Regions from separate parts of the Homo sapiens genome. Here region 2 is linked to region 1. Evidence: fine-mapped expression QTL. A gene starts in region 1. The other region holds a variant in brackets. All regions are shown on one strand. Distances are from middle to middle. Region 1 holds the start of COL22A1 (collagen type XXII alpha 1 chain). Region 2 overlaps COL22A1 (collagen type XXII alpha 1 chain).

Evidence for each region. PIP is the estimated chance that this variant, and not a neighbour inherited with it, causes the effect.
Region 2: its variant is the best candidate, but not a certain one, in a credible set for the expression of COL22A1 in gastroesophageal junction (GTEx, PIP 0.59).

Annotation. Positions count from the first base shown.
Region 1 is chr8:138,911,681-138,916,075 of GRCh38, forward strand. It overlaps COL22A1 (collagen type XXII alpha 1 chain), which reads right to left and starts at 2,361. Exons shown (of 65, transcript NM_152888.3): 1 at 1,939-2,361. RefSeq lists an enhancer at 1,462-2,307.
Region 2 is chr8:138,887,146-138,891,540 of GRCh38, forward strand. All of the region lies in intron 1 of COL22A1 (collagen type XXII alpha 1 chain), which reads right to left. Among named protein-coding and RNA genes, the nearest start is that of COL22A1, 25 kb to the right of the region's middle. The variant T/C (reference allele first, on the strand shown) is at 2,432.

The DNA of each region.
Region 1 (4,395 bases):
GAAACTACACACAAAGCCTTAAAACTGTCTGTGGACTGCATCCGTTTAGGGGCCATTTACTTAATCATTTTGTAGGTATAAAACCTTTCGTGAATCTGATGAAAGTTTGACCAAACCACAGAAAAACCAGACACAAACTTCTGCTCCAAATGTTTTAAAGGATGCATGGATCCCTGGGAGCCACTCTTGGACCCCAGGAAAGAAAATCCTCATTGGATGCAGCATCTTGTCTAATAAGACAGGCCCAACAATATCAAAGTGACCATTTCCCACAGTTGCGCAGTGCCTCAGTAGCACAGCGACAAGGAAATCTAGAATGAGGTGGGGGTGCTTCCTGCTGAAGCTCCCCAGGTGTGTGAAACAGAAGCAAACTAAGATATATTGCATGCTCACCACGTACCAGATGCCTCTTGTGTTATCTATCTCTATCTCTTCCATCAGCTCCATCAGCAAAAGAGAAAATTGAGGCTCACTGAGGATAGCTGCTTGACCCAGGGCAGCCAAAGAGAGCAACAGAGTTAGCACTGGAAGACAAGACTAGCAGCAAAGCTCACATCCTTCAACTGCAACTTGCATGCAGCTGGGCAGCGTACCCCATGCAGCAGGCCTCTAACAAAAATGAAGCCCTGCAATTTCAAATTTTCCTGGAACCTTTGAACTTAACCAGGAGCCTGAAGATGTGGCCTTCAGCTTTCCATGATTTGCCTGGTAGAAATCATCAATGAGAGACAGATTAGGAGTGAGAAAGACCCACGTAGACATAGGAGTGTCGGCATGGGCCCAGGCGTGGTGGCTCATGCCTGTAACCCCAGCACTCTGGGAGGCCAAGGTGGGCGGATCACCTGAGGTCGGGAGTTGGAGACCAGTCTGACCAACATGGAGAAACCGCATCTCTACTAAAAATATAAAATTAGCCGGGCATGGTAGCTCATGCCTGTAATCCTAGCTACTCAGGAGGCTGAGTCAGGAGGAGAATCGCTTGAACCCGGGAGGCAGAGGTCACAGTGAGCCGAGGCTGCACCTCGCACCATTGTACTCCAGCCTGGGAAACAAGAGTGAAACTCGGCCTCAAAAAAAAAAAAAGTGTCAGGATGGGGCTCTGGAAGATGACAAGTCATGGAATGAAGTTCTGAGGAGGGGGACCCGGCACACAGCTCTGGAACAGGCCGGCAGGCGGTGCCTCCTTCTGCAGATGGTTGATAAGCATGTCCACCTGTCATCCCTGAGTCTTGCCTTGAGTGGGGAGAAGTGAGGACTCATTTTCCAATAACACAGCTAATTCAAATCGTGCTCAATAAAGTGGCACACGAAACTCTGGTCTGCTACAGAACATGATACGCAGGGATTGGGGGAAGGACAAAAACACCTCTCTGACCTAGAGAAGGCTGGGAGAGGGGGGATAAAATGCTCAAATAGAAATGAGATCTAAATTTAGATCAAGAAAGCTAAGTTCCCTGACAGTAAATGTAAAACCAAACGAAGACTATTCTTTCCCCACCCCCTGCTCCATTTCCCCCGCATCTTTTTCTCCTTTTACTGCAAACTTCTTACTTGAAAGTTTAAAGAGCTGGTACATCTCAACTACTTTAAAGTATTATAGCAATCTGAAAACAAGCTCTCGCATTTGACTCTCGGCGGCCATCGCTGAGCTCCTCGCTGCTCAGCTAGAATCAAACAGGTGTGTTCTCACGGATTTGCCGCTATTTTACTCTGAAGTTAAGTCAAGACACAGACACATCTGCTTCCAACTATAGTCACTCCCTAAAGAGCGAAGTGTGCTCAGGCTTCAGAAGGAAACGCGTCTGTATTTGGAGAGAACATCTCCCCAGCCCGCATCCACCCCCCGCCTCTCGTCCCTCACTGTCATCTGGGAAGATGGGCGTCAGCTGAAGTCTGTGACCTTCAGCACTGCAGCAAAGAAGAGAACCCGGGTCTTACCTGGCAGGGAGGCACTCAGGGGTGCCAGCGGAGGTCCAGTCCTGGGCCCAGGCCCACTGGAAGCAGCAGCTGGGAGAAGACACCAGCCCCAGGAATCCTCCTCCTGGGGGTCACCTGTCAGCCACTCGCCCACTCTCCCCCAAATAATCTCACAAACTCAGACTCTAAACAAGACCCGCAGTAAGTGTGGAGGCTTTCCCCAGGCCAGGGGGCCAGAGAGGGAACCAGCTTGAAAACAAGTAACTAAATACATACAGTTAGAAGGAAAGGCTTGAAAGTTACAGAATGAGATAGAAAGTGTGTGAGAAACAGAAGAACAGGGAAAGCGGAGAAGACACTTCCTTGGGGAGAAACGCCGCAGCCTCGGCCAGCCCCGCCACTGCCCAGGAACAAAGCTGTCTGGAGCCTCCCCAGGGGCAAGCTGGCCTCAGCGCTGGGATTCCCCGGCTAAGAGCGCGGGGCTGGGGAGGAGCTGGGGCGGGGGCGGGCCTAGGAGCTCGGGGCGGGAGCGGGCGGGGGCCAAGCCGCGAAGGAGGAGGAAAATCAGGGGGCTGGGAGCGGGGAGGGGCCGGAGGTGCAGGGGCGGACCCCAGAGAAAACGAGAGAGGCCGACGAGGCCCCGGACAGTGGCGAGGGGCTGCGGGGAAAGGTGGGCAGGGACCTCGGGAGGGCTGTGGGGGACTGGACAGCGTTAGGGTCCAGGCAGTAACGAGGTGGCCCTGGGAAGCCCAAAAGAGGGGCTGACAACTTTCTGTCCAATTATAGACTTCACTGATACTCTGCTCCCTTTTCCAGCGGGTCTGAAATAGACCACCGACTAGTGCCGCAGCTGCCCGAAACTTTGGGAAGTTTGGCGCCACCAGGGGGCCTGGGGAGGGGGCGCGCTTGGCTCTTTTTCCAGATCTGAGAGGCCCCCTCCTGTCTGAGCAGGTGAGAGCAGGTAACGCGCACCCCTCTGTGCCAGGGGCTCCACCTACAGGCAGCCCTGTTCACTGGCTGTGACTTCAGCTCTGAGGACAGGGGCATCGCGTCCTTCTTTTTGGGATGAGGACAGTGAAGCCTCGGAGAGAGCCTTTATAGTCTGCCAGCGCCCCCAGCAGAGCAGGGATATGGGCCCACGTTGGCCTGATGAGGACACTCGCCTGGCTAATGGGCTTTCCAGCCCCCAAAGGCAGACCATGAACAGGTGCAGGCCCGGGGCACCCTTCTACTTTTTCTTTCTGAGCACTGTTCCTAAAAATGGGCCAGGCAGGAGTATTTTGAACTAGATGAGAACATGGTTTAATCTGTGTGACCTCCCCCACCCCCAGCTCCCAATCTGTCTCCTAAACTCTGGGGTGTCTTTATTTGGTTGCCTGCTGGGTAGCAACGATTTCATAAACAGGCAGTATCGGGCTCCTCTGTGACCCAGGGAGCTCAAAAATCCAGCTGCTTCCTCCCTCTCCGGTCTTGTTTTCCAGCCACTCTTGTGGAAATTCATTTCACATGTGTTGACTGAACCCCACCACCCTCACCATGTCAGGTGCCCATCAAGTAGAAGAGAGGGCTGGCCGTATCACGAGAAAGGTGAGGGGCTGAGATGGGTGCTTGTCAGTTACCAGGAGGGCGGGACGCAGAGAAGAGAATGATTGCACCTGCGAGAGCCCAGCGCGTGCGCCTCTGGGCACACTAGTGTCAGAGGCATTGAACCAGAGCAACTCCATCTTGAATAGGGGCTGGATAAAATGAGGCTGAGACCTACTGGGCTGCATTTCCAGCAGGTTTGGCGTTCTTGTCACAGAATGACATAGGAGGTAGGTACAAGACACAGGCCACAGAGGCCCCACTGATAAAACAGGTTGCAATAAAGAGGCTGGCCAAAACCCACCAAAACCAAGATGGTGACCTCTGGTCATTCTCACTGCTGATTATATGCTGATTATAATGCATTACCATGCTAATAGACACTCCCACCAGTGCAATGACAGGTTACAAATGTCATGACAACGTCCAGACGCTACCCTATGTGGTCTAAAAGTTTCCCTCAGTTCTGGGAAATCCCCTCCCCTTTCCCAGAAAACTCACTAATAATCCACCCCTTGTTTAGCATGTAATCAAGAAAGAACTATAAGTATATCTGGTCGAGCAGCCCGTGCCACTGCCCTGCCTGCAATAGCCATCCTTTTGTTTCTTTACTTCCCTAATAAATTTGCTTTCACTTTATGAACTTGCCTTGAATTCTTCTCCTGGAGTCTGGATTGGGATCCTTTTCCGGTAACACTAGTGGGAACACAGACAGAAAAGAGGGATGAGACCACAACATTAAATTACAATAAGTTATAATAAGTGCTATGAAGAAAAAAAAAGATGAGTCAGAGAACAAAGTAAGGGGTGCAAACCCTATATTCAGGGCTAAGGAGAGGTGTGCTGAGCAGGTGGAAGACTGAAGAATGGGCAAAGCCACCATGCAGAGGAGGA
Region 2 (4,395 bases), 25 kb before region 1:
TTCTATTCTTTTACCTGTTAACTGTCCCCACCTCTCCCCACCCCTAGCCCCTCACTATCCTTCCCAGACTGTGGTCTCTCATTGTTTTTTTTTTTTTTAGATGGAGTCTTACTCTGTTGCCCAGGCTGGAGTGCAGTGGTGCCATCTCAGCTCACTGCAACCTCTGCCTCCTGGGTTCAAGCAATTCTCTGCCTCAGCCTCCCAAGTAGCTGGGATTACAGGTGTCTGCCACCACACCTAATTTTTGTATTTTTAGTAGAGATGGGGCTTCACCATGTTGGCCAGGCTGGTCTTGAAGTCCTGACCTCGTGATCCACCCGCCTCGGCCTCCCAAAGGGCTGGGATTACAGGCGTGAGCCACCACACCCGGCCAGTCTCTCTTAACATTATATCTTGAGCAATGTCTGGCCTATTAAAAATTCCTTAAAAATGTCACCATTATTGGCTACCTAGAACTATACCTGTGGCACTGGCGTCATTGTTTTAATTGCAATTTCTACTTTGGGACATTTAGTAGGTCATTTTATTTATTTAATATGCTACAGAGGACATCTTTGCACCTAAGTCTTACCCATGTGTAATTATTTTCTGAGGGTAGATTTGTAGAAAAACACTTAGGGGGTCATAAGAGTTTTGCAAGAATCCTGACTCGTATTGCCAAATTGCTTTCTGAAAATATTGTACCAATGTCCACTGCCTCCAGCAGTGTGGGAGTGTGCGGGTGCTCCTGTCACCACCTACTTGTTAGCATTGAGTATTATCACTCCTTCAATCTTTGGTTAACTCAACAGAAGAGGCATTGTTGCTTGTTTCCCATGCATTTCTTTGTTCCATGAGGCTTATTAGCTAAGTGTATTTTCCCTTCTGTATATTTTATTTTCATGTGGCTGTACATTTCTAAACGTATTTTTCATTGTTAAAGCCAAGGTCCTGGACAGGGAAAACAATACACATTTCACTATTGATTTCTTCATTTAGGAAATATTCACGAGTTGCCCTCCTGTGCCAGGTGCTGAGGATAGGTAGATAAATGACACTGAGCCTACCCTGCACAGGTTCTCAATGACCCTGTGACACAGGTAAGACACACACCAGGGGGAGGGAGGATCAAGTGAGTGCTGGTAGAAGGAAGCCCAGGGGGTTGTAGGGGAAGGCACAGAGGTGGGGATGTCCATCACCTGACTATTTCAGGGGAAGGTCAGGCTTCCCAGCTTCCTTCCAAGGTGAGTTTGGAAGGCTGAGCAGGACTCAGCCAGACAAAAAATAGGTGATAATTTCAGGCAGAAGGAATGGCATCTGCCAGGCCCCAGAGTGGGCCAGAGTGTGGTACTTAGGGAACTTCCCTATGCATGACAGGCATGCAGGTTGCTCTCAGGAGAGGTATAATCTGGTTCCTACCACCTTCAGGGCAAAGTGCACTCAGGTCTTACCAGGGCTCTAAAGGCCACTTGTGAGAGCACAGGGTATAATAGTCTGAATGACAATACTCAGAGAGCAGCAGGAGGCAGCTACAGGAACAGGAAGAAAAGCACTGTCCAAAAATGGAACACATAAGGGCAGTCAGGGTTCCAAGGTCAGGAGTCAGATGGTCCAGGGGAGAGGCACAGAATCTTAGCAAGTCAGAGCTGATCGCCCAGCCCTCTCATGCTTCACAGCTGTATGGAGACAAGGACTTGTCGGACTTGTCCATTCTGTTGCCTAGCACCTAGAACAGCTCCTAGCATGTAGTGGTCACCTAAATAAGCATTAGATTGATGAATGAATGATGAACGGCCAGCATCTGATGCTGTTATAGTATCATATTACATTGGGGTAGCCAGGAGTCATTCATCAGAAGAATATAGGCATCATCAAGGAACTATGAAAGTAACTGATTATCACTTATTATCTACCATATGCCAAGCAGTATCTGATTATTGCATGAGCTCATGTGACTCTTCAAGGCAGGCATCATCATTTCCACTGGGTAAAGGAGGACACTGAGGTGGAGAGAAGGTATGTGTCTCTCCCCACGTCACTCAGTTGGTGAAAGAAGGGACTGGGGCTGAAACCTAGGCCTCTTCTGGGCACTAAACCCACACTCTTTCCCTGAACTCAATGGATACAACAAATCCAAATATTAGCTGCAACTGGCACTATTCACAATACCAAAGACTTGGAACCAACCCAAATGTCCAACAATGATAGACTGGATTAAGAAAATGTGGCACGTATACACCACGGAATAATATGCAGCCATAAAAAATGATGAGTTCACGTCCTTTGTAGGGACATGGATGAAATTGGAAATCATCATTCTCAGTAAACTATCGCAAGGACAAAAAACCAAACACCGCATGTTCTCACTCATAGATGGGAATTGAACAATGAGAACACATGGACACAGGAAGGGGAACATCACACTCTGAGGACTGTTGTGGGGTGGGGGGAG[T/C]GGGGAGGGATAGCATTAGGAGATATACCTAATGCTAAATGACGAGTTAGTGGGTGCAGCACACCAGCATGGCACGTATACATATGTAACTAACCTGCACATTGTGCACATGTATCCTAAAAGTTAAAGCAAATATTAGCTGCAACTACTGAGCCGCCTTTGTCTTGTGAAATAAGAAAGATGGTGGCCAGTGAGGGCGGGAAATAAAATGGATCATCCATCGTTGTTCAGTATTTTCCCAGGCTCTAGAAATTTGATAATTTCCCTCATTGCAGAAACCCGGCTTTATCAATGTTGTAATCTCCAAGTTTTTAGAGAAATCTTTGTCATATATCTTTCTAAATACTCAAGAAAAGACAGAACTAAAGACCAATATCCTTTATAAACATAGATGCAAAAATATTTACAAAAAGAAATGCAAATCAAATTCGGGCAGCATAGTAAAAGTAACAGACACCATGACCAAGTGAGGTTTATCTCAGGAATGCAGGAGTGGTTCAACATACAAAAATCAATCAATGTAACATACCACATAAGCAGAATGAAGGGAAGAAGAAAATACATAGTGAATCCAACTGATGCAGAAAAAGCATTTGACAAAACCCAGCACCCTTTCATGATAAAAAAAATAAAATAAGACTATAAAAAAACTTCCTCAGGATAATAAAGGCCATCTATGAAAAATTCACAGCTAACGTCATCCTCAATGGTGAAAGACTGAAAGTTTTTCCAAGAACAAAACAAGGATGCTTCTTTGCCGTATCTACTCAACATGCTACTGGAAGTTCTAGCCACAGCAACTAGGCAAGAAAAAGAAATAAAAGGCATTCAACTTGAAAAGGAAGAGGTAAAATTATCTCTATTTGCAGATGGCCTTATCTTTTTTTTTAGGGATGGGGATTCACTCTGTTTCACATGCTAGAGTTCAGTGGCACAATGATAGCCTACTGCAGCCTTGAACTCCTGGCTTAAGCAATCCTTCTGCCTCAGCCTCCCAAGTAGCTGTGACTACAGGCACATATCACCATGTCCAGCTACGGATGGCATGATCGTATATGTGGAAAAACCCAAATAATACCCCCAAAACTGGTAGAACCAATAAACAAATTCAACGAAGTATAAGATACAAAACCAGCACTCAAAAGTTTGTTGTGGGCTGGGCACAGTGGCTCATGCCTGTAATCCTAACACTTTGGGAGGCCAAGGCAGGCAGATTGCCTGAGCTCAGGAGTTCGAGACCAGCATGGGCAACATGGTGAAACCTCGTCTCTACAAAAATACAAAGAAAAAAAAAAAACTAGCCGGGCATGGCAGCATGAGCCTGTAGTCCCAGCTACTCAGGAGGCTGAGGCAGGATGATTGCTTGAACCCAGGAGGTGGAGGTTGCAGTGAGCTGAGATCGTTCCACCATATTCCAGCCTGGCGACAGAGTGAGACTCCGTATAAAAAAAAAAAGTTTGTTGTGTTCCTGTACACCAGCAATGAACAATGCAAAAAGAAAACTAGGAAAATGATTTCATTCATTTATGGTAGCATCAAAAAGGATAAAATGTTAGGAATAAATGTAATCAACAATGACACATACACTGAAAACTACGAAACACTAGTGACAAAAGTTAAAGACCTAAATAAGAAGAAAGATATCTCATCTGATTGCTTAATGGTTGACAGATTTTCTGTCTCAGGTGATGAAAATGTTCTAGAAATAGAGTAATCACAGCAGACTTGCAAATTAGTACTAATCACCCCCTTTACCAGTGATGAACCTGGGTTCAGGGAGGATAGACAACTTCCCTAAGCACACACCCTAGTAATGACAGCTGGTCTTGGCATCAGATCTGAAGGGCGCCAAAGCCCCTGCTCTTCCCAGCACTAAACCATTAACATACATTAAACCATTTACGTACATTACATGCTCATAAGTGCAGTAGCCACTTTAAGGGCTTTATAAATAATAATTCATT